Regions from separate parts of the Homo sapiens genome. Here all the other regions are linked to region 6. The links come from fine-mapping of genetic effects on gene expression. A gene starts in region 6. Each other region holds a variant in brackets. All regions are shown on one strand. Distances are between the middles of the regions.

Region 1 (4,086 bases), 150 kb before region 6:
AGGAGGATCACTTGATCCCAGGAGTTTGAGGCTGCAGTGCCACTGATCATGCTATTGCACACCAGCCCGGGCAGATTGAGACTGTGTCTCAAAAAACAAAATCAGGCCGGGCGCAGTGGCTCACGCCTGTAATCCCAGCACTTTGGGAGGCCGAGGCGGGTGGATCACGAGGTCAGGAGATCAAGACCATCCTGGCTAACACGGTGAAACCCCATCTCTATTAAAAACACAAAAAATTAGCCAGGCGTGGTGGCGGGCGCCTGTGGTCCCAGCTACTCAGGAGGCTGAGGCAGGAGAATGGAGTGAACCCGGGAGGCGGAGCATGCAGTGAGCCGAAGTGTGCAGTGAGCCGAGATAGCGCCACTGCAGTTCAGCCTGGGTGAAAGAGCGAGACTCCGTCTCAAAAAAAAAAAAAAAAAAAAAAAATCAGTGGAGTTTAAAGAATGCTGTGGGAGTGGGAAATATACCAGGAAGTCGTGAAAGGAGACGACTATTCCTCAGTAGGATGCTGGGCCAGGCTGCTCTTCAGCCCCTCATGGCAGAGTGACAGGGGCCTTTTTGCACATTCTGATCAGTACACTGGATTAGAAATAATGGAGATTTCTTTTTCTGTGAAAAAATTGAATATGTTATATGATTCAGGGTTGGCAGCTTTTTCTGTTAAGGACCAGATAATATTTTACCTTTTGCTAAATATAAAATTCATAAGATCTCTATTGCGTCTCTTCTTTTTGTTAAAATGTAAAAACAGTTCTTAGCTTGCAGGCTGTACAGGTCGGAGGCTGCAGTCTGCTGACCCCTGGTTTCAATACCTTGAAGAAAATAACTTCACCAACTCTGCTGCTGCTTAGAGCTGACTAATCGGCCCTAGCACTGATCTCTGAGTCAAGGGCTGTCAGCCAGGGTAGCAGTTCTGATTAGCTTCATGACATGGTGAGATCTGAGAGAGATTTAATTTTATAAGCTGAGATCCACATTTAGTTTTTGAAATCTGTTTTTCTTAGGTGGGGATTTGCTCCCTTGGTATTTGGTTTTGCTTTTGAAGTTTGCCTTGATCTCACTCTCCCACTTGGGGACTTGGAGAGCGTTGTGTTCCAGACCCGCTGTCCTCTCAGTTGCCCACATTCTCTTTAGTAGACTTTCTCCTTGGTTAACCCGTGCTCTCTCCTCTTACCTCTCTTGATAGATATGAGCCCCAGACTGACATCCCGCCTGACGTGGATACTGAACAGGACCGAGTTTTCTTCATTAAGGCAATTGCCCAGTTCATGGTTAGTGGACACTTATTTTGTGGAGTTGTAAAATTAAATAAACTAGAAAGGATGACTCCTTGTTAGGGCGACTTTCAAACTGTGTAATTGAGTTTTTCTTTCTTTTTTTTTGAGATGGAGTCTCATTCTCTCGCCCAGGCCGGAGTGCAGTGGCACAATCTTGGCTCACTGCAACCTCCGTCTCCTCGGGGGTTCTCCTGTCTCAGCCTCCCGAGTAGCTAGGATTAGAGGCACACGCCACCACACCTGGCTAATTTTTGCATTTTTAGTAGAGACTGGGTTTCACCATGTTGGCTAGGCTGGTCTCAAACTCCCGACCTCAAGTAATCCACCCTCCTTGGCCTCCCAAAGTGCTGGAATTACAGATGTGAGCCACCACGCGCCTGGCCTGAGTTTGCTTTCTAAAACCATTCCATTGCTGGGTTTCTGTGGCACCATTTCACCAGCGAAGTTCTTTTTGTTTGTCTTTTAATTCATTATTTGTTAAGAATTTTGTTTATGCCAGGTGTGGTGGCTCACGCCTGTAATCCCAGCACTTTGGAAGGCCGAGGTGGGCGGATCACGAGGTCAGGAGATTGAGACTATCCTGGCTAGCAGGGTGAAACCCCGTCTCCAGTAAAAATACAAAAAATTAGTTGGATGTGGTGGCGGGCACCTGTAGTCCCAGCTACTCGGGAGGCTGAGGCAGGAGAATGGTGTGAACCTGGGAGGCAGAGCTTGCAGTGAGCCGAGATCACGCCACTGCACTCCAGCCTGGGCAACAGAGCAAGACTCTGTCTTAAAAAAAAAAAAAAAGAATTTTATTTATTTATTTTTGAATAGATAACATATTTCATGGCTCACAAATTGAAAGTAGGCTGGGCGTGGTTGTTCATGCCTGTAATCCTAGCACTTTGGCAGGCCAAGGTGGGAGGATAGCTTGAGT[C/G]CAGGAGTTTGAGAACAGCCTGGGTGATGTAGTGAGATCCTGTCTCTACAAAAAATAAATTTAAAAAAAATTAGATGGGCCTGGTGACACGTGCCTGTAGTCTCAGGTGCTTGGGAGGCTGAGGTGGGAGGATTGCTTGAGCCCGGGAGGTTGAGGCTGCAGTGAGCCGGGATCATGTCATTGCACTCCAGCCCAGGTGACAGAGTGAGACCCTATCTCAAAAAAAAAAAAAAAATTAAAAACATTATGAAACAAAATGGAGTAAAATGACTTTTTACCCTATCTGCCCTGGGCCAAGTTCCATTCCAAATAACCACTATTTTAAATCTCTTCCAGAGTTTGTGTGTGTGTGTGTGTGTGTGTGTGTGTGTGTGTGTGCAAATAAAAATATATATTTTTCCTTTGTTTTACACAAATGGTACTGTATTCTACTTGATGTACTTACTGTACACTACAAGATGTTTAGCATCTTGCTTTACTTAATGGTATATTTTAGAGAACTTTCCAAATACATATAGAATTTCCTCATTCTGTTTACGCCTGAGTGGTATTGCTTGCATGGATTTGCCATAATTTATGTAATTTATATAGGTAGGCTTTTAGGTTGTCTGAAGCTTTGCTCTTTGGAACAGTGCTGTAACAAATAACCTGTACATCTCATTTTGTTTGTGTTTGAGTGTGTCCCTAGAATAAGTTCTTAGATTTGGGATTGCTGGGTCAAAAGATATGTGCATTTGTAATTTTGATGTCTTTTACCAAATTGCTCTCCATCAAGATTGTCCCAGTTTATACAACCACTCACAATGTTTGAGTCACTTGAATGCTTTGCTTTTATTAGGTTATATCCCAGTTGTCAGCAGAGGCATTTTCAACTCACCTACATGGGATTTAGTTTAGACATTACATGGAAAGGGCCTTCAACTTTTTTTTTTTTTGGTCTAAAAATAGGCCACCAAGGCACATATAAAACTCAACACTAAGAAGCTTTATCAAGCAGATGGGTATGCGGTAAAAGAGCTGCTGAAGATCACATCTGTCCTTTATAATGCTATGAAGACCAAGGGGATGGAGGGCTCTGAAATAGTAGAGGAAGATGTCAACAAGTTCAAGTTTGATCTTGGCTCAAAGGTAAGGACAACAAAAGCCTTGTAGTGGGCGATGGAGCGTTGATTTCTTGAGCTCTGAAGTGGAAGGAGTCTGCTACAGCTCCGCTGCTTTTCTTCCTCCTCAGCTGAGGGCAGTTTGTCAGTTTTGTGCTCATCAGCATTTGGATAAAGTCAAAGTCACAATCCACTAATTCAACTATTTATTAAAAGCTTAGTATTTGTCAGGTAGCATTCAAGCGCTGAGGATACAGTTGTGAACAAAAAGGACAAAAATCGTGTGTTTATTCTCTTCAGTTAGGGGAGTCAGACTGTGAACAATAAGAGGTGTGGAAGGCCAGATGCAGTGCAGGCTGTGGAGAATAATAAGCTGGGATGGGGATGGATGCTGCCCAGAGTGATCTTAAATCGGGTGATCAGGAAGGCCTCATGGATTGGATGGTGTTTCCAGCAGAGATCCAAGGGAGGGAAAGAGTGAGTTGTGCGGGTGGCGGGTGGCGTCAGGGTGTCTCAGGATGATAATTTGTTTTGGGCTGGGTGCAGTGACTCACTCCTGTAAGCCAAACACTTTGGGAGGCCGAGGTGGGAGGATCCTTTGATGCCAAGAGTTCCAGACCAACCTGGGCAACATAGTGAGACGCCATTTTTACCAAAAAAAAGAAAAAAATTAGCTAGGCGTGGTGGTACACACCTGTGGTCCCAGCTGCCCAGGAGGCTGAGGTGGGAAGATCTCTTGAGCCCAGGCAGTCAAGCCATGTTCATGGCACTGCGCTCCCGCCTAGGCAAC
Region 2 (4,086 bases), 32 kb before region 6:
GTCACGTGACTGGGTAACAAGCATTTCAGAGATCAAAAGGCTTCGTATAATTAGTAAAGAAACCTTTTATTTATTTATTTAGAGACAGAGTACTCAGTGTGTCACCCAGGCTGGAGTGCAGCGTGGCCTGATCATAGCTCACTGTAACTTCGAGGCTGCAGTGAGCTGTGATCATGCCACTCTACTTTAGCCTGGGTGACAGAGTGAGACCCTGTCTCAAAAAAAAAAAAAAAGTAATTATACTATGCATATTGCATCATGAGCATTTCTCTAAGTCAGTAGATAGGAAGCCATATTATATTCCATATTTAATCAAACATTCCCCTGTTGATAAAGATATATTTATAGTTTTTATCATTATAGATTATGCAATAAATGTCTTTGTACTTATAACCTGTATGTGTGTGTTTTTATTTCTTTTGGAAGGAGTCCTAAATCTAGGATTTCTAGGCTAAAGGGTATGTGTGTTTTGTTTGGTTTGCCTGATTTTTTTTTTTAAAAAGTTTATTATTTATTTTGAGACAGAGTCTTACTCTGTCACCCAGGCTGGAGTGCAGTGGCGCAATGCCGGCTCACTGCAACCTCCGCTCCCCAGGTTCAAGCGATTCTCCTGCCTCAGCCTCCGGAGTAGCTGGGATTACAGGCGCCTGCACCACACCTGGTTAATTTTTGTATTTTTAGTAGAGACGGGGTTTCACCATATTGACCAGGCTGATCTTGAACTCCTGACCTCGTGATCCACCCGCCTCAGCCTCCCAAAGTGCTGGGATTACAGGTGTGAGCCACTGTGCCCGGCCTATTTTATATTTTTTTTAGAGACAGGGTTTTGCTGTCATCCATGCTAGAATGCAGTGGCACGAGCATAGACTCGAACTCTTGGGCTCAGACAATCCTCCTGCCTCAGTATCCCGAGTAGCCAAGAGTACAAGCGTGTGCCACCACACCCAACTGACTTTTAAAAATTTTTGTAGATATGGGGTCTTGCTATCTTGCCCAGGCTGATCTTAAACTCTTAGCCTCTGGTGATCCTCCTGCCTCCAAAAGTGCTGGGTTTACAGGTATGAGCCATTGCTCTTGCCTGGTTTACCTGTTTTAGAAAAGAATACCTGTACATTGTTAATTTTTTTTGTCCAGGAGCTTCAGAAGGGTACAAAAATTCCCTCCTACTTCTGGCCCCCTGACCTCCAAACTCCCTCATCAGAGGCTTCTTGAAATATTCCAGATAATTCTGTGCACATACAAATATAAATATATATCCCTGCTTTTCCCCAATGTAAATAAACGGTAGCACATTTTACCCATTGTTCTGAACCTCGTTTTTGCAACTTAATGAACTGTCTTGGAGATTTTTCCTTATTACATATAAATCTATCATTTTGTTTAGCAGTTGCATTATATGTCATCATTTGGATACATTCATACTTCATTGTATCACCTATCAAGGGACATTAGATGGCTTTCATTTCCTTCTACAATGGCTAATGGTGCATTGAACATACTTGTATATACTTTTATGCAGATTTGCACATATATTTGTAGGATATTCCTGTAACATAAGTGGAATTGCTGGGTCAAAGGATATGGGTAAATCAGAGTGTTTTGGGGTGTTACCCAGTTACCTTCTAAAGAAGCCAAATTGGCCAGGCGTGGTGGCTCATGCCTGTAATGCCAGTACTTTGGGAGACCGAGGCAGGTGGATCACTTGAGGTCAGGAGTTTAAGAACAGCGTGGCCAACATGTTGAAACCCCGTCTTTACTAAAAATATAACATTAGCTGGGCATGGTGGCGCACCCCTGTAATTCCAGCTACTCCAGAGACTGAGGCAGGAGAATCGCTTGAACCCGGAAGGTGGAGGTTGCAGTGAGCCAAGATCACACCACTGTACTCCAGCCTAGGTGACAGAGCAAGACTGAAAAAAAAAAAAAAAAAAACGGAGGCTGAATCAGTTTCCATTCCGTTAACAATGAATGTCTTTTTACTCATATCCACACACTCACAGAATATATCATGAAACATTTTGTCTTTTACTATTTCAGCGGTTAAAAATTGGTGTCTTGTAGCTTTACTTTACATTTCTTTCATTGAGGAAACGAGTATTTTCTTCACGTGATTAAAAGCTACTTGTTTACCTATGACCTTATGTTTGTGGGCTTTGCATTCTTTTAGATTGTGTGATTAATCTTTTTCCTATTGGTTTGTAAGATTATGTGATTAATCTTTTTCCTATTGATTTGTAAGAACTCTATATTGTGGAAATGGATATAGTGTTACAATGTTACAGATA[G/C]TTTTTACCAGTTTTTATCATTTGACTTAAAAAAATTTTTTTTCTTTTTTGAGGTGGAGTCTCACCATGTTGCCCAGGCTAGACTTGAACTCCTGGGCTCAAGTGATCCCCCTACTTCAGCCTCCCACGTAGCTGGGACTACACCTATGTGCTACTGTACCTGGCTTGGCTTTGACTTTTAATAAAATTTTTTCCATGTAGAGCTTTACAGTTTTTTGTAGTAAAATAACTTTTCTTGTATGCACATACCTTCTTCCAGTGTTTGACTCACCTTTACGTTCTCTTAATGATGCCTTGTAATGAACAAAGGTTCTTCAAAGCTGGAGGCATCACATTACCTGACTTGAAATTATACTACAAGGCCTCTTTTGGGAGAGTGAGGGGAAAGGATTTCTTGAGAGCTTGAGACCAGCCTCGGCAACATAGTAAGACTCCATCTCTAATGTACCTGCCCCCCACGTCCCCCCAAAAAAATTAGCTGGGCATGGTGGTGCACACCTGTGGTCCTAGCTACTCATGCAGTAACTAAAACAGCATGGTACTTGTACATATTTTTGTACCATAGATCAGTGGGACAGAATAGAGAACCCAGAAGTAATGCCACTTGCCTGCAACCAACTGATCTTCAATAAAGTTGACAAATATGCAGTGGGGGAAGGACACGCTATTCAATAAATAGCGCTGGGAAAATTGGCTAACCATATATAGAAAAATGAAACCGTACCTCTATCTCTCACCGCATACAAAAATTAACTCAAAGACTTAAACATAAGACCTGAAACTCTAAAGATCTTAGAAGAAACCCTAGGAAAAACTCTTCTGGATATTAGCCTAGGCAAAGAATATATGACTAAGACCTCAAAAGCAAATGCAACAAGAAGAAAAATAGGCAAATGGGACTTAATTAAATGAAAACACTTCTACACAGCAAAAGAAATAACAGAGTAAATAGACAACCTATAGAATGGGAGAAAATATTTGCAAATTAAGCCTCTGGCAAAGGACTAATACGTAGTATCTCCAAGGATCTCAACAAGAAAAAAAAACCCATTAGTAAGTGAGCAAAGGCTGGGCGTGGTGGCTAACACCTGTAATCCCAGGACTTTGGGATGCTGAGGCAGGAGGATCACTTGAGGCCAGGAATTAGAGAGAAAGTAGGCAAAGGACAAGAACACATACTTCTCAAGTGAAGACATACAAGCGGCAAAGAAACATGAAAAAGTGCTCACATCAGTAATCATCAGAGAAATGCAAATCAAAACCACAGTGAGATATCATCTTACACTGGTCAGAATGGCTATTATTAAAAAGTCAAAAAACAACAGATGTTGGCATGGATGCACAGAAAAGGAAATGCTTATATGCTGTTAATGGGACTGTAAATTACTATAACCTCTATATAGAAAACAGTATGGAGGCCAGGTGCGGTGGCTCACTACCTGTAATCCCAGCACTTTGGGAGGCTAAGGCAGGCGGATCACTTGAGTGCAAGACCAGCCTGGCCAACATGGTGAAACCCCGTCTCTACTAAAAATACAAAAATCAGCTGGGCGCGGTAGTGCACGCCTGTAATCCCAGGAAGCTGAGGCAGGAGAATCGCTTGAACCCGGGAGGCAGAGGTTTCAGTGACCTTAGACTGTGCCACTGCATTCCAGCCTGGGCGACAGAGTGAGACTCTGTCTCAAAAAAAAAAAAAAAAGGTTAGTGGCTTTTGTGTCCTTGGTTAGCAAGGTCTTCTCTACTTTGAGATTATAAAGTAATTTTCTGCATGTTTTCTTCTAGAGTTTTTATTTTTACATTA
Region 3 (4,086 bases), 70 kb before region 6:
AGGAGGAAGCCCTGGATTGGGCTGTGGTCATCATCACAGCGCAGAGCTGATGTGGTCCCCAGGCCCAGAAATGCCTGTGGAGGCCTGACCCACGCTGGGTGTCCCAGGTCCTCCCTGCAAATGGCGGGGGTGGGGGCTGCTGATGGCAGGTTGGGGTGGGGTCGGGATGGCCCCATCAGTTCCGCTCCACCTTCTTCTTGCCCCGAGGCTGCCGCCTCCTGCCCTGGAGCTTCTCCCTGCGGGTGGCGGCAGTGGTGAAGGTGATACAGTGGGTGTCCAGGAAGTCCAACAGCCTGCGCGAGGACACACGGAGGCCGTTCTGCCTCAGCTCTGCCTGCAGCTCCCGCAGCTCAAAGGGCTGGTACAGCAGCACCTTCTGGTACAGGGCCGGCTTGGAGCGGATGTAGCACCTCAGCGCCTCGTCTGTGTCCGCCGCCTGCACGGCTGCCTGCGAGGCACTGACCTCCCCCTCGCCCTCCTCTTCACCTGCAGACTCAAATGCCGCTCCAAACTCACAGGAGGAAGAACTGAAAAGAGCCAGACCAGGACGTTGTGCAACCCCTTTCTCTCCAGCCCCTGAGACCATGAGCCTCTTTAAAGGAAGGAAGGTGTCTACGGGTCCCATGGAGCCTGGCCTGTGGCACGATCCCCAGCAAGGCAGGACGGGCCTGAGAGATCCCTGCAGGCTACGCCAGCGGGATCCTGCCCCAGCCAGAAATGTCTAGCATGTGGGGCAGGAACCAGGAGGCCTGCGCAGGGCTGGGGTCAGGGAACCAGCCCCCTAAACCCACCTGGTTTTCCCACAGGTCAAACCCAGAAGGTGACGGGGGTTTTTGAAGATTGGCCATTAGGTCTCACTCGTGCCAACCCTCACGCCCACGGGCCAGAGGATACATGAGGCCACTGACCCCATCGCATCCATCCGGTTACCTCTGTGAGCTCAAGGAGCTGTCACTGCCATCCACAGAGGTGGCCACGGATTCTTGAGAGGCTGGGATCTGGGCGTCATCATTGAGGCCTGGAGGTGCCTCCTTGGTGGGCGACCTGCTTGGGGGTGTGATGCTTTCATGATGCTTCCTTTGATGTCGGGGGCCCTTGGTCTTAGCAGGTCCCTTGGGCCTATGGGCCCCAGGTCCTGTGGTGGCCTCCTGCTGGGCATGGACCCCTGCCCTTGAAGGCTTGTAGGTCTGGGAGGCGAGGGTCTGGCAGTGAGGCGCCTGCAACAGCGGCTGTGAGGACTGGCTCTCGTCCTCGGAGTCTGAGTCCAGGGTCTGGTGAGTGTACTGGAATATCTCCTTCAGCTTCAGAACCATCTGGCGTTTAGGCAGAGGGCGGACTCCAAACCTGACGGAGGAACAGGTGGATCTCAGGACCCACCCACACAGCTGGTCCACACTCCACGTTCCCTATCTTAGCAAAGAGTGATACCCAATGCATTCAGCGAATGGCTTGTGTGACAAACCATAGATGCCTGACTTCTGTGAGCATCAGAGGTTAGTGTCTATTCTAGGCGCCAACTAAGCTTACTCTGAATATTCCAAAAGAAACATTGCCAGCCAGGCACAATGGCTCACGCCTACAATCCCAGCACTTTGGGAGGCTGAGGCAGGAGGACAGTTTGAGCTCAGGAGTTCAAGGCCAGCCTGGGCAACATAGCAAGACCCCGCCTCTACAAAAAATACAAAAAT[T/C]AGCCAGGCGTGGTGGTGTCACCTGTAGTCCCAGCTACTAGGGAGGATGAGGTAGGATCGCTTAAGCCCGGGAGGCTGAGGCTACAGTGAGCCAAGATCACATCACTCTACTCCAGCCTGGGCAACAGAGTGAGATCCTGTCTCCAAAAATAAAAAATAAACAAAAGATATGCTGCTCCCAGTTCTGAGGGATGGTGGCAGCAGCAGCTTCCCCGGGTGCCCGAGTGGAAGAGCAGTGTCATGTGGATGTGAGAGTTAAATGTTCTTTTAAAAAAAATCAGGCCTCCGCCGGGCACAGTGGCTCACGCCTGTAATCCCAGCATTTTGGGAAGCCGAGGCGGGTGGATCACGTGGTCAGGAGTTCGAGACCAGCCTGGCCAACATGGTGAAACCCCGTCTCTACTAAAAATACAACAATTAGCCTGGTGTGGTGGCGTGTGCCTGTAGTCCCAGCTACTCGGGAGGCTGAGTCAGGAGAATCGCTTGAACCCGGGAGGTGGAGGTTGCAGTGAGCCGGGACTGCGCCACTGCACTCCAGCCTGGGCGACAGAGCAAGACTCTGTCTTTCAAAAAAAAAATCAGACCTCCTCACTCAGACTGCTCTGGCTAGGGGGCCATTTCCATCTACATGGAATATGGGGACCTGCTGCCCAGGGGTGACATGCACGAATCCTGTGTGTTGCCTCCCTGGGGAATGGTACGCAGAGAGAACTGGGAGGCTCACCCCGGCACCCAGCAGTCACACATGCTCCCTAAGGAGCTGACTGCAGACCTTTCTTCCCAAGCCCAGGCCAGCTGCATCCACCAGACCCAGAGACCACACGGGGGGCCCTTCCGCCCCCAGGTGTGTGAAACCCAGTTACTTATGGGAGGGAAAAGACCACTGTGGGCAACAAGCTTTGAAGACCGCCAACCTATCCAGTTCCTTCTTCAGCACCGGCGTCTCCATAATGGAATACTGTGGCATCGGCGTTATGGGCACTTTGGGGGGCAAGTTCTTCTTCCGATTAGCACCTTCTGGGTAAAACAAAAGAAGCACACGTTTTAGCATGAGGGACACGGATTTCCCACATCTGATCCCAGTAGCGTGACCAAGAGGAATAATGCACTTGAAGATAACCCAAGCATCGTTTTGCTCCATGAAAGCAACAGTGGTCACCCCTTCCCTGTCTGGAGCAGGGGCTTCCCAATGATAGCATCGGTGACACGCACTGAGGACCACACCTTGTATAACACGGGTGCCGGGTGAACAGAGCTCCTGGGGCCACTGAACCCAACAGCCCGGCACGTGACTAAAACTTATGCATGTAAACTTAAAAATATCTGACCCACAGTGACAACTTGAGACAATGGGCCACACTGATACTCTTCAAACAGGCTTAGACATCAGTTTTGCTTTTTAAAAATAATTCATCAATTTAAAAAAACCCAGTTAAAAAATGGGCAAAGGGGCCGGGCGCGGTGGCTCACGCCTGTAATCCCAGCACTTTGGGAGGCCGAGGTGGGCGGATCACGAGGTCAGGAGATCGAGACCATCCTGGCTAACACGGTGAAACCCCGTCTCTATTAAAAATACAAAAAATTAGCTGGGCGTGGTGGCGGGCGCCTGTAGTCCCAGCTGCTTGGGAGGCTGAGGCAGGAGAATGGCGTGAACCTGGGAGGCGGAGCTTGCAGTGAGCCGAGATCACACCACTGCACTCCAGCCTGGGCGACAGAGCAAGACTCTGTCTCAAAAAAAAAAAAAAAAAAGGGCAAAGGATGTGAACAGACATTTCTCCAGAGAAGATCTACAAATGGCCAATAAGCACATGAAAAGGTGCCCGACATCATTAGTCATCAGGGAAATGCAAGTCAAAACCACAGTGAGATACCACTGCACGCCCACTAGGATGGCCATAACAAAAAACACAGAGGGTTTGGGCAAAATGGCAGAACCCTATCTCTACAAAAAAAAAAAAAAAAAAATACAAAAAAAGTTAGCAGGGTGTGGTGGCCCAAGTCACCAATGTGGGCAGCTGTTTGTGGCTGGTTCCAGCTACTCGGGAGGCTGAGGTGGGAGGATCACCTGAGCCAGGAAGGTTGAGGCTGCAGCAAGCCATGAACACGCCACTGCACTCCAGCCTGGGCGACAGAGCAAGACCTTGTCTCAAAACAATAACAACAACAACAAAAACAGAATAACAAGTGTTGGTGGAGATTTAAAATGGTGCAGTCACTTTGGAAAACAGTCTCGCAGTTCCTCACAATGCTAAACACAGTTGCCATATGACCCAGCAATTCCACTCCTAAGTACAGAACCAAGAAGAAGGAAAACATGTCTACACGAAAACTTGCACATCAATATTCCTAAGTGGCATTATTAATAACCACAAATTAAAAACAACCCGTGTGTCCACTA
Region 4 (4,086 bases), 43 kb before region 6:
ATGGTTCACTTAATTACACATCTGTGGAAAACCAAAAGCATGTAAGTGTAATCAGACATTGTCATTTTATGCCAGTTCTTCCAGGGAGGGACAAGGGCATGTGGGGTGAGGGAAAAGTCTTCGGAGTAACAATACTGTCAAATACTCAGTCCAGCCTGGTTAACATGGTCTAACCGTCCTATCAGACATCACAACAAAAGGACCTAGAAACCTGTCAAAGCATGTTGTTCTTCCACAGGTATTAAAATATGTGCATCTTGGGAGAGTGTTTTCTTAACTGAAATTTAGGGAGCAAACCCCATAAAAGGCAGTCACCACAGAAACAGGATGATCCCCAAATCTAGGAAAACTATCTCCTACACTGATCTAAGACCCCTGGCTGTTAAAGAGGCTCTTTCTGTAAATACTGCAACATAAGAGACAGAAAGAGACATTATATTCTCATGAACACTCAGGAGAGAAAAGGTCACTTTTACTTATCTTCTCAACCCAGCAAGGCTCTCCAAACCTGGATGACTGGAATGTCGCCTGTGTGCAAAGGCTGGGCCTCGTGAGCATGGTTGTTTACTTTGGCACACAGCTAAGTGGGGTTCAAAAATCAAAACTGAATGACCCAATGGCAGAAAGTTATTCCTTTCAAATACAATAATGCAATCTCCACTGTCCAAGGAATCTAATTAATCATTTTGTTTTCCAGAGCTGAAAATACTCCTACCTAGAATCTACTTTGTATGGCTGGCGCATTCTCTTCTGTGTCTTCCCCTTAGAGAAGTGTCCTCTAATCCTTTATGGACCGTCTCCATCCCCGTTAATCCCTATCATCGCCCACTGTTTTCACAATGGCATCTGTCATAGGTTATCATCATATGAAACAGGTAATATCTATCGAATGCTTACTGTGTGCCAAGCACTGTTCCAATTGCTTTCCAAGTCAAACTCGTTTAATCCTTACAAGAAGCCTATATGGTGGAATCTCTTGTCATCCTGTCTTTACGGCAAGGAAACACGCGCAAGCAGAATGAGGAACTGGCCTAAAGCCAGTTCAGGAACAGCTTTCACAGTGGCAGGGCTGGGATCAAACCCAGGAAGTGTGGTTCGAAACTATCCGCTCTTGTGTTTTTATTCATCGGCTTATTATCTGTCCCCCATTAAGCTCAACACTTCAGGAGGGTAGAGATCCATCTATTACTTTGCAACCTCTTTGGCTGATCTGGTGCCTGACTTGAAATAAGTGCTCCACAACTACTTGTTGAATTCATGAATTGCAAAGAGTTCGGTATAATGGGAGTAGAGAGAAAGGTGTAGGAGAAAACGCTGCGGGGAGAGGAAAGGATTGGCTCACAAGGGCCTGGAAGGTCAGGCTAGGCAAAGTGAATTTTATCCTGTTGGATGCGGGGAGCGGCTGGAACAAATTCCACCTCCACAACTGTGTTGATCTCCGCATCTCTGTTGATATGAACCTCACAACAGTCTATCTCCTCCTATAGGTGCCCAGTCAAGATTTACTGAATGACATAACGGATCCTGCAAGCCTGCAGGTTTCCAGAGGGAAGGGGACTTGTGCCTCCTTGCTTCGTACCTACCGCAGCCCACGGCTCACAGCAGGCGAGGGATGAATGAATGGATCGGTAAGGGGCGGACCCTCCCGCTTCCCCCAACCCGGCGACCTACGGAAAGGGGCTGAGGGGTTCCCCGTCTGGGAAAAGGGCTGCCAAAGACTCTAACGGCTCTAAAGTCAGACGGAGAACCCCGATCCCCGGACTGGCCCGGACGGAGACCACCGTGGGGATCCGGATCCGCCACCCTCCTCCCTCCAGGCGGGCCCCGGCCCCTCTCCACCCGAGTGCGGCTCCTGCCTCTCCGTCGGGGCTGCGGGCCTGCCGAGGCCACGGAGCCAGCGAGGGAGACGGGCGAGAAAGGCTCTTCTCCCTTAGGAAAGAGAGAACGGCCCGAAATGACAGGACCTCCGCCTCCCGGGTGCCGACTCCCAGCCCCACAGCCCGGCTCCTCCTACCTCCGGCGCCGCCGCGGCACCTTCTTAACGGAGACTCGCGCGCCTGCGCATGCGCCGCCCGCGCCCCCGCGGAGCATTGCCTGCGCGCAGGCGCAGAGCGGGCGCGCGCGGTGGTGCGGCAGCCTCGCTTCCGGTCTTCCTCTGCGGCGCCGGGCGCGGGCCCGCGGCGGCCAGCGCTTCCGGTCGGCAGGAGGCGGGGCGAGGCGGAAGCGGCGCTTGCTTCAGGTGGAGTCTGTTAGTTTTTGAGAAAGAGTTAGGGCGAGTTTAAGGCACTGTGGCAGCTGTGAGATAAAGTCTGGTTCCTCCCCAGCTGGCTCAGGAAATGTTCGCGGATACAACGGCGGCCCCCTCTGGGCATACCTGCCTGTGGAGCGGAGAGTGGACGGTGTGAGGGGGACCGGGAGAGGCACCAAATCTGGCCTGGGGGCCCGAGAAGCTTCCTCT[C/T]AGGTGGGGTGGCGTGAGAGTCGAGGCCTGGAGGTCGGGGAGGGTTAGCTACGTGAAGAGGGGATTCTGCCGCGCTTCAGGTGCCTGGAGGGGATGCCCGAGCTCTTCCGCAGGGCTAGGGTGAAGCCAGCCAGGGCCTGGGGGAAAGGTAGCAGAGGTTTGCCATGGCTTGGTATTTGAGGGACTTTACACATCGTATTAAGGGTTTGAGCTTCAACTTGGGGTCGTCGGGAGCCATTGAAGGTTTTTTGTTGTTTGTTTTTTGAGACGGGGTTTTGCTCTTGTTGCCCAGGCTGGGGTGCAGTGGCGCGATCTCGGCTCACTGCAACCTCTGTCTCCCGGGTTCGAGCGGTTCTTGTGCCTCACCTTCCCAAGTAGCTGGGATTACAGGCGCCAGTCACCACGCCCAGCTAATTTTTGTGTTTTTAGTAGAGACTAGGTTTCACTCTGTTGCCCAGGCTGGTCTCCAACTCCTGACCTCAGGTGATCCGCCCGCCTCGGCCTCCCAAAGTGGTGGGATTACAGGCGTGAGCCACCGCTCACGGCTTTTTTTTTTTTTTTTTTTAAGTAGAGACGGGCGGTGGGGGCGGGGGGGGGAGTCTCACTATGTTGCCCAGGCTGGTCTCGAGCCCTGGCCGCAAGAGATCCTCCCGCCTCGGCCTCCCAAAGCGCTGAGATTACAGGCGTGAGCCACCACGCCCGGCGTAAGATTTTGTTTTTAAAGGCCTAATTACAGTGAGAACAGATGAGGCAAGGACACCCATTAGGAGGCTATTACATAATCTAGATGAAAAGTGAGAGCGGCCCGAATTAGGAGGTGGAGCGAAAAGAATGGAGAAATATGGAGCATAGTCAAGACGCAGTTGTTAACGATTTGCCGGTTTCTGGCCTTAACATCTGAGAGTAGTGTGCCTCCAGTCACTGAAATAATGAACACAGGAGAGGTGTAAAGGAATCAGTTTGCAGGGCAGACAATATGTTTTTTAAAAGATACAGTATCATAAAATGCACACTAGAAGTGTACATTCAGTGGTTTCCAGTACGTTCACAGGATTTGCAGCCATCGTCGCTAATTCCAGAACGTTTTAAAACCCCAAATCGAACCTGCCGTACCCATTCGTAGTCACTCCGCAATTCCCCCGACCCCATCCCCTGGCAATCACTTATCGGCTTTCTGTCTCTGTGGTTTTGCGTATTCAGTACATTTTATGTAAATGGGATCATGTGATACTTGGCTTTTTCTGCTGGGCTTTTATTAAGCATGTTTTCAAGATTTCATCCATGTAGATGAATCAGTACTGCATGCCTTTTCATGGCTGCATAATCACGTGTTTGGATGGACCATGTTTTGTTTATCCATGTATCAGGTGATGGGCATATGGATGTTTTTACTTTTTGGCTGTTAGAAATAATGCTGCTATGAACATTCGTGTTCATAACACAAGTTTTTGTGTTCTAGGAGTGGAATTACTGGGTAAGACTACATTTGATTCTGAATGTTGAGCTTCAAAACCTTCCAAGAGGTTTTCCTTGATGAAGGATTTAGGAGGTGTTTACTTGCTCTCTGGCTTGGAAATCTAAGTTAGTTTGTAATATGGTTTCCAACTGGATAAAGAAGACAGAACAAG
Region 5 (4,086 bases), 56 kb before region 6:
GAAGCCAGTAAGGAGAGTGACCACGTGGTCACTGTCATTGACGCACACACTGCAGAAGCCATCACATGTGGTATGCACGGCTGGACCTAAAACTACAGAGCAGGATGTGGGCTGTGGGGACAGACTGTCCCCGGGGCTCCAGCCACAGCCTGGAGCAGTCCTGGGATGCTTTTCCCCAGCACTCATGTCAACATGCTCCTCCTCTGTCACGGCCAAGGCCAGGCCTGTGGCATCTGTTTGCACAAAGGCTTGTCAGAGGCCAGGGGGGCCCAGGCCTGCCGCCCTCCTGAAGTCCTCCAAGCTGCCTCAGGCAGCTGCGTACTGACTGTAGGGCTACCTGCCGCACGACTGTCTGGAGTGTGTGCTCCGAATGCCAGTTTCCGGGCTCCATCTGAGGCATTTTGCCAGTTGCCCTGGGACTCTGTTTTTTTTTTTTTTTTCAAGACAGAGTCTCACTTTGTTGCCCAGGCTGGAGTGTAATGGCACGGTCTCGGCTCACTGCAACTTCCGCCTCCCCGGTTCAAGCGATTCTTCTGCCTCAGTCTCCCAAGTAACTGGGATTACAGGTGTGTGCCACCATGCCTGGCTAATTTTTGTATTCTTAGTAGAGATGGGGTTTCACCATATTAGCCAGGCTGGTCTCGAACTCCTGACCTCGTGATCCGCCCACCTCAGCCTCCCAAAGTGCAGGGATTACGGGCGTGAGCCACTGCGCCCGGCCGGGACTCTGCATTTTCAACAAACTCCAGGAACACACTCTGGTGGACACCAAGGGTCCTCCCTGATCCTACCCAGAGTACCATGTAGTTGCTGGACAGAGAAGAAAGCTGCAGCCACCAAGTGCCCCTCTGGCCTCCTCCCGCCTCTGCCTTTCCTTCCTGGACTTTCCATCACCTGGCTGTGGGTACCCAGTGTTGCAGTTCTGGGATTGCCAACCTCCCCCAAAAGCCTATCCATGTGCCTGAGGGGAGGGACTCACCTGGGCAGGCCGCTGGGGCACGAGAGGAGGGACCAGCCTGGCCGTGTAGAAGTCCTCCATGGCCCAGGCCCCAGTCAGTGCGCTGCCCTCCCACAGAAAGCTCTGCTTGCGTTCAGGTGGAGGAGGACACTGGCCCGCTCTTTCCCACCCTTCCTTTAAAATCCTGCTGGCAGGAAGTGGTGGCGTGCTAGACAATTCCACTTCCTCAGAGAGGAGCAGGGCCACACGGTCCTCTATCTGTCGGCCTGTGGTTTCAGAGTCCTGGACTAACAACAATGGGGGGGATACCGGGGGTTTCTTCTTGCGACTTTTATTCTCTAGAGAGAAACAAAAGCGACACCATCAACGGTGGAGTCGGTCCACTCACCCGGGACCTGCTGATGGCCTCTCCCAGGGTCACTCTTCTGATCACACAAACCTGCTTCTGGTCTTATCCTCTCAGAAAAGGCACTTTCCAGCCTGAGCGCTGGTACAGCCGCACCCGGCTCCATCTCCGACCGGGACAGAGCCATGGCCACCAGCAGGTCCTCGGACGGTGCCTCGTCCACCTTCCGCCTCTTCCGTGGCTCCTTCTTGCTGGTGGGTCCTCTCCGTTTCAGACCTCTACTGTGATCACTGAAGCTAGAAAACAGCCAAAGAGAAAAGTTACTGGGGCTAGAGGAGTGCACGCTTCTCAGGTTGGTCACACTGGTCTGGAGAGGGCTGGGCCTGAGAGAAAAGTGACGGATGTGGACCTGCCAGGCAGATGCGTCCCCCACTTCCACTGCCTTGTGTGAACTCATTCAATTCCAGGCCAGAAGTTCAACATGGCCCAGGCACAGGAGGGTCTGGGTTCCTTCACGTGCTGCTGTCCAGCAGGCTCATGGCAGATGTACGGAGCCATCTGTGGTACCTGCACATCCTCATGTGGCCAAGCCCATCCAATGGAGTCAACAATCGATGGCTCTGAGCAGGCTCCCTGGACTCCCACCACCTTCACCCATCAATACTTCCGATGCTCCTTACACGGTCCTGGCCACACCGGCAGAAAAGGATCCCTTCCCTCCTGCAAGGGCTCCACGGCAGTGCCTCTGTCCATGGCCAGAAGGAAGGGCTTCCCAGCTTAGGCTGCCGATGGTCAACATTATACCAGCCGCCCCGGGACTCTGCACTTTCAACGGGCAGCAGCTCGTTTGGTTTGGAGGAAATGAACAGGAGTTTCCGGCTGGAGAGA[A/C]CCTAGGCTGCCTGGGTGACTCCCAATAAGCTGGGCAAGAAGGAGGAGGGCAGAGGTGACAAAGGAACTTAGCACAAACCGGGCCCACCTTCCCTGCAATGCAGTCATGCCTCTGGCTTTTGCAAAAGCTCATGCTCTCCAGGGTGCCAGGGATGGCTCAAGTTCACCTTCCCAGGAACGTGGATAATCACAGCCTCCCAGAGGGAAAGGAGCTGCCTGGGCAGCCTGGGACCCTGCTTCTGTGAAGGGAACACAGACTGTGTTCCCTCCTCACTCCCCAGCAGGCCAGGTTTGGGCTGTGGGGAAAGAATATGAGGCACTCTGGCCGGGGCATGCGTTCTGATGACCACAGGCTTGGCCTTTGGGGAGGGAGGGGTTCAAAGACCCCATGAGGGCATCCAGCTCCTGTAGTTTTCTACTCTGACAACCTTCTAAACGGATCCACATACATCTAGTTTCAGTACTTGGAGGTATTCTAAAGGCAGACATACTTTATCTGAGCAGGTGCTTTTGGCGTGGTCCTGCCAAGAAAGAAACAATGGCTTAGATGACGTCTATTCTAAGGCCTCAAGGCTTGCACCCCTGCCATGCTAAATACAGATGCGCTCCTCCACCAAGAGAATCCCCTCTGCCCTCTGCCATCTCAGCCCCGAGCCAGCTCAGCTGCCCATGACCTGTGTGCAAAGCAGGGGGCGGGACAAACAGCTATCGCCTTTGGCCTTCCCTTTGCTCCTGACAGCGGTCTCAAACCTGGAGGAGTCAAAGGTCCAAGATGCCTTTGTTCACTATGAACCTGGTGTCAGCTCTAGCGTCCTCAGCAGCAGGGCAGCGTGGAGCAGGGCCAGCCCTCTGGCACTTGTGTGGCTGTGGTTTGCATGCTGAGGACTTGTTTCCTGGCTGTGAGCAAGGCAACTCATTTTAACTTTTAAGCATTAATTCATGCAAGATTTTTAAAAAATAGGGTCCTACACTTCTGTTGCACCAACTTTGTTGTTGTTTTTGTTTGTTTTATGAAGACAGGTTCTTGCCCTGTCGCCCAGGCTGGAGTGCAGTGGTGCAATCACAGCTCATTGCAACCTTGGCCTCCCAGGCTCAAGTGATCCTTCCGCCTCAGCCTCCCACGTAGCTGGGACTACAGGTGTGCAGCACCACAGCCAGCTAATTTTTTAATTTTTTGTAGTGATGGGTCTTGCTATGTAGTCCAGGCTGGCCTTGAACTCCTGGGCTCAAGTGATCCTTCCGCCCTGGCCTCCCAAAGTATTGAGATTACAGGTGTAAGCTACCGTGCCTGGCCAATCACCAAATCTGTGAACTGTGCTGAGTAATCTTATGTTAACAGTGTGAAAACTGGACTGTGCTGAGGTGGAAACCATGCTGTCCAACAACGAAATGGATGGAGTAAAGTGACTACCAAATTCTTAGATGTGGTAAAGCAGTAGTCCCCAACCTTTTTGGTACCAGGAACTGGTTTCATGGAAGACAATTTTTCCATGGGACAGGAGTAGGGGAATGGTTTCAGCATCAAAGCATTCCACCTCAGATCATCAGGCTTTAGATTTTCATAAGGAGAGCTCAACCTAGATTCCATGCATGTGCGGCTCACAACAGGGTTTGTGTTCCTGTGAGTCTAATGCCACCACTGATCTGACAGGAGGCGGAGCTCAGGCAGTAAAGCTTGCCTGCCCGCTGCTCACCTCCTGCTGTGTGGCCAGGTTCCTAACAGGCCACAGACCGGTACTGGTCCGAGGCTGGGGGGTTGGGGACCCCTGCACTAGAGGGTACCGACTGTGGGATCATGGGATTGGAAACTCAGGAAGGACCTTGAGGAAAACAGTGCGAAGATCATTTCTGCACCCCCCTAAAGGGGCAGGTCCAGAGCCTTCCAGAATGCAGA
Region 6 (4,086 bases):
ACCGAATACTCCGGTGGCCTTGCTTGGGGGCTGGGTTTTGACGTGCTGGAGGCTGTCCTAGACTTAGAGATTAAAAACAGGGAAGAACCATTGCTGAAACCTTTGGAAAAGCCTGCAATGGGGCCTCTGGCAGCCTGAGGAGTGGTGGTGTTTCCATCTGGTAGACGCCGTCTCAATAGGAGGGACAGATGAGTGCACCAGTGCTGCCAGCCAGAGGCGTCTGTTGGCGTGTCTTTATGGAATGGGGTGCCAGTCTTGTGGAGGGTGGTTTACCTTCCTGTTTCTAGTCCCCACTGGGCCTGCCTTCTGCTTCATGGCCAGCTGGCCAGACCGAGCACTTTCCTGACTTTCGACCTTGGCCCCTGCTGACTCTTGCCGTTGAGGCCTCCTGCAGACCCCATTTGTATTCATTTCCTGCAGTTCTCATACCTGAATCCCGCCTGGACTTCTGCCAAGCCTTCCAGGCCCTCCTCCCCCAGGGGGACCACAGATGCTACGTGCAGGGCTGTCCTTGGAGGGCCAGCACAGCCCCTTCCAAGTGGGCAAGACCCAGGGGTGGCTCAAAAGATAGCTGTGCCCTAGCCCTGGAACCTCTGAATGTTGATTTTTGTAGCAAAAAAGGACTTGCAGATGTGAGTAAAGGCTGTTGAGATAAGGACATCCTCCCTGCTCTCTGGGAGGACCCCAAATGCAGGTGCACAGATCTTAAGAAGAAGAGGCAGAGACTGGGGTGATGCAGCCACAACTAAGGAAAGCCAAGGATTGCTGGCAGCCTGCAGAAACTGGAGGGCAAGGAGCATCCCCCAACCGCCCGGAGCCTCCAGGAGGCGCAAGGTCCTACTGACTCCCTGACTTCAGACGTCCAGTCTCCGGAATTTTGAGAGGATCCATTTCTGTTATTTTAAGCAACCAAACTTGTGGTAGTTTCACCAGTCTCAGGAAATGAATACGAATGGAAAGTCAAAGATTCCAAGAAATGAGTGGCGGGGTGCGGTGGCTCACACTTGTAATCCCAGCATTTGCGGGAAGATTGCTTGGGCTCAGGACTTGGAGACCTTGTGTCTGTGAGAAACTTAAAAAATAGGCTGGGTGCGATGGCTCACGCCTGTAATCCCAGCACTTTGGGAGGCCGAGGCAGGCGGATCACAAGGTCACGAGTTTGAGACCAGTGTGACCAACATGGTGAAACCCTGTCTCTACTAAAAATACAAAAATTAGCCGGGTGTGGTGGTGCGTGCCTGTAATCCCAGCTACTCGGGAGGCTGAGGCAGAAGAATTGCTTGAACCCAGGAAGCAGAGGTTGCAGTGAGCCGAGATAGTATTACTGCACTCCAGGCTGGGCAGCAGAGCAAGATTCCGCCTCAAAAAAAAAAAAAAAAAAAAAAAAAAAAAAAAAAACTGAGCATGGTAGCATGCACCTGTGGTCCTGGCTACGCCGGAGGATTGCCTGAAGCCAGGAGTTCAAGACCAGTCTGGACAAAAGAGCAAGACCCCATCTCTACCAAAAAAATTTAAAAATTAGCCAGGCATGGTGCCGTACCCATAGTCTTAGCTACTCAGGAGGCTGAGGAGGGAGGATTATCTGAGCCCTGGCGGTTGAGGCTATAATGAGCCATGATTGTGCCACTGCACTCCAGCCTTGGCAACACAGTGTGAGACCCTGTCTCAAAAACAATAAAAACCCAAAACAAAAGAACCAAGAAATTACTGGACCTGAGGCCTGGCCTTTAGCTGCTGCCCTGCCCTTGTGACCTGGTCACTCGGGATCCCCTGGGCCTAAACACACAGCCTATTGTCTACCTCAAGAAGGCTCCCCACTGCTTGGCTGGCAATTGGGGTGGGCTTTGCAGGCCCCACCTGTCCTGGCCCCACGGCGCTGGTGCTGCAGGCCCCCACCACTGCTTGTTCCGAGCTCCCCAGCCTCCTGCAGAGTTGCCTGCACCTGATGGCGATGAATCAGGAAGGCAGGCGTGTCCTGGGCCACAGAGCAGTCATGGCTGTCAGCCACCAGGGGGCTCCATTTGCAACTTTGGATGTGGCTTTGGCCTCTTTGTCCAAAGTGACCTTGGGGCCCCCAGACAAGAGACAGGGAGACTGGAGCCCAGCCCCACCCTCCCGCACATACCTGGCCCATCCCTGCCCTATCCTGGAAGATGGGGGCCACCACACGTGCAAGGGACACGGGATAGGAACCTTTGGCCTTGTTATCAGACATTTTAAAACTAAGTGCAAACGTGATTATCAGGTGCAGTTTTTACAGCAGCAAGAAACCTGTGCTTACAGAAAGAAACACGTGCTAGCAACCCACCTATGCGGAAAGCCACACAGAGCCATTGTTTTCTGCACTCTCAGGTGACGGCTCACATTTGCCCCAGGGAAGGTCACAGCTGCCTGAACTTTTAAAACTCCCAGACACGCACTGCCTGTGCAGGATCCGGAGCCCAGCAGCACTGCCAGGGCCTTGAAGTGCTTCTTCAGAGACCTTTCTTCATAGACTACTTTTTTTTCTTTAAGCAGCAAAAGGAGAAAATTGTCATCAAAGGATATTCCAGATTCTTGACAGCATTCTCGTCATCTCTGAGGACATCACCATCATCTCAGGTGAGCACCAGGTGGAGTGCCTCTGGGTGACTGGCCGGTTTGGAGCAGGGAGGGAGGCTTAGAGTCTCATCCTCCAGCAGCGAGTGAGGCGGAGGCTCCAGCGTCCCTCCCGGGCGGGTTTTCTGGTGGATGGAGGAGTGACTCGGGGTCCTCTACGTGGTGCCAGCTGTTTGGCTTTCTGGACGTTGTAGGAAAGGGTTTCCCCCGCCTGCGTCCCCCTGACCTTGAGCTCCACCAGCCCCTGCCAGCTGGGCTCCAGAAGGCTGGAGTGCTGTGGCAGGGATGACGTCTCACTTCTGTTATGTCTCTGTGCCCTGTGCTCTCCCAGGATGAGGGGCATGAAGCTGCTGGGGGCGCTGCTGGCACTGGCGGCCCTACTGCAGGGGGCCGTGTCCCTGAAGATCGCAGCCTTCAACATCCAGACATTTGGGGAGACCAAGATGTCCAATGCCACCCTCGTCAGCTACATTGTGCAGGTGAGGCCAGGGCAGCCTCCCCCCAAAAGCAGAGGAGCTCTGGAGTCTAGGGCTGGTGGGCAGGGCCAGCCCTATGGAGCCACAGGGTGTCGGGTGTGGGGTACTGAGCACCACTGCTCCCAGCACGGTGGAACAGGCTCTTGGCTGTGGACCAAGGTCCTCATCCCTGCTGTGCTGTCCCTGGCTGGCAGCAGGAGCCCAGGCAGAAACATGAGGCTGCGGTTAAACCGAGCAATGCCACGAGCATCAGCTGTGGCTCCCTTTGTGGCGCTGTAGGGTCCCTGGGTGGCACCAGCCCTGCTCAGCACCACTGTGGCCCTGCCCCCAGATCCTGAGCCGCTATGACATCGCCCTGGTCCAGGAGGTCAGAGACAGCCACCTGACTGCCGTGGGGAAGCTGCTGGACAACCTCAATCAGTGGGTGACAGTGGCAGGGTCATAGGAAGGTGACATCTCGTCCACGGCACAGCCTCACTTCACTTGGGCCCCAAGGGTGGGGACCTGGGCACAGCCTCGCTATCGGCAGCCAGAGGGGTCCCCTATGGCCCCCGCCACTGGGACCTTTTGTTTCTTCAATCCAGGGATGCACCAGACACCTATCACTACGTGGTCAGTGAGCCACTGGGACGGAACAGCTATAAGGAGCGCTACCTGTTCGTGTACAGGTGGGTGGTCTAGAAAGCCAGGAAGCCCCTCCCTCACCTGGGAGGGCCCCAACAGAGCAGGGAAGTAGTTTGTCCTATTAGTTTGTCCTATGGCAAGAACCTGAGGCTTCAGAGCAGGGTCCAGGGTGGAGTGAAAACACCCCAAGGTCCCGGACCAATGGGTTGAGCAGGTGCCTGGCTCCCCCGCCCTCCTGTCGCCTGGGTCCCGGACCAATGGGTTGAGCAGGTGCCTGGCTCCCCCGCCCTCCTGTCGCCTGGGTCCCGGACCAATGGGTTGAGCAGGTGCCTGGCTCCCCCGCCCTCCTGTCGCCTGGGTCCCGGACCAATGGGTTGAGCAGGTGCCT

What was found.
Region 1: its variant is fine-mapped to the expression of DNASE1 in whole blood (INTERVAL, PIP above 0.99).
Region 2: its variant is fine-mapped to the expression of DNASE1 in whole blood (INTERVAL, PIP above 0.99).
Region 3: its variant is fine-mapped to the expression of DNASE1 in whole blood (TOPMed, PIP above 0.99).
Region 4: its variant is fine-mapped to the expression of DNASE1 in whole blood (TOPMed, PIP above 0.99).
Region 5: its variant is fine-mapped to the expression of DNASE1 in whole blood (TOPMed, PIP above 0.99).

Annotation. Positions count from the first base shown.
Region 1 is chr16:3,505,145-3,509,230 of GRCh38, forward strand. It overlaps CLUAP1 (clusterin associated protein 1), which reads left to right. Exons shown (of 12, transcript NM_015041.3): 3 at 1,187-1,271; 4 at 3,145-3,324. Among named protein-coding and RNA genes, the nearest start is that of CLUAP1, 6.2 kb to the left of the region's middle. The variant C/G (reference allele first, on the strand shown) is at 2,197.
Region 2 is chr16:3,620,301-3,624,386 of GRCh38, forward strand. It overlaps a transcript of DNASE1 not described here. Among named protein-coding and RNA genes, the nearest start is that of SLX4, 11 kb to the left of the region's middle. The variant G/C (reference allele first, on the strand shown) is at 2,286.
Region 3 is chr16:3,582,167-3,586,252 of GRCh38, forward strand. SLX4 (SLX4 structure-specific endonuclease subunit) reads right to left here. Exons shown (of 15, transcript NM_032444.4): 13 at 2,603-2,705; 14 at 931-1,344; 15 at 1-527. The coding sequence ends at 176. Among named protein-coding and RNA genes, the nearest start is that of NLRC3, 6.8 kb to the left of the region's middle. The variant T/C (reference allele first, on the strand shown) is at 1,689.
Region 4 is chr16:3,609,546-3,613,631 of GRCh38, forward strand. It overlaps SLX4 (SLX4 structure-specific endonuclease subunit), which reads right to left and starts at 2,061. Exons shown (of 15, transcript NM_032444.4): 1 at 2,015-2,061; 2 at 1-21. It also overlaps a transcript of DNASE1 not described here. RefSeq lists a silencer at 1,919-2,268 and an enhancer at 2,309-2,378. The variant C/T (reference allele first, on the strand shown) is at 2,459.
Region 5 is chr16:3,596,400-3,600,485 of GRCh38, forward strand. SLX4 (SLX4 structure-specific endonuclease subunit) reads right to left here. Exons shown (of 15, transcript NM_032444.4): 6 at 1,398-1,600; 7 at 980-1,296. Among named protein-coding and RNA genes, the nearest start is that of SLX4, 13 kb to the right of the region's middle. The variant A/C (reference allele first, on the strand shown) is at 2,193.
Region 6 is chr16:3,652,444-3,656,529 of GRCh38, forward strand. DNASE1 (deoxyribonuclease 1) reads left to right here and starts at 2,248. Exons shown (of 9, transcript NM_005223.4): 1 at 2,248-2,601; 2 at 2,930-3,077; 3 at 3,406-3,494; 4 at 3,659-3,742. The coding sequence starts at 2,931. It overlaps LOC124903631 (a long non-coding RNA gene), which reads right to left. Exons shown (of 2, transcript XR_007064954.1): 2 at 1-4,086. RefSeq lists enhancers at 2,425-2,952, 2,953-3,480.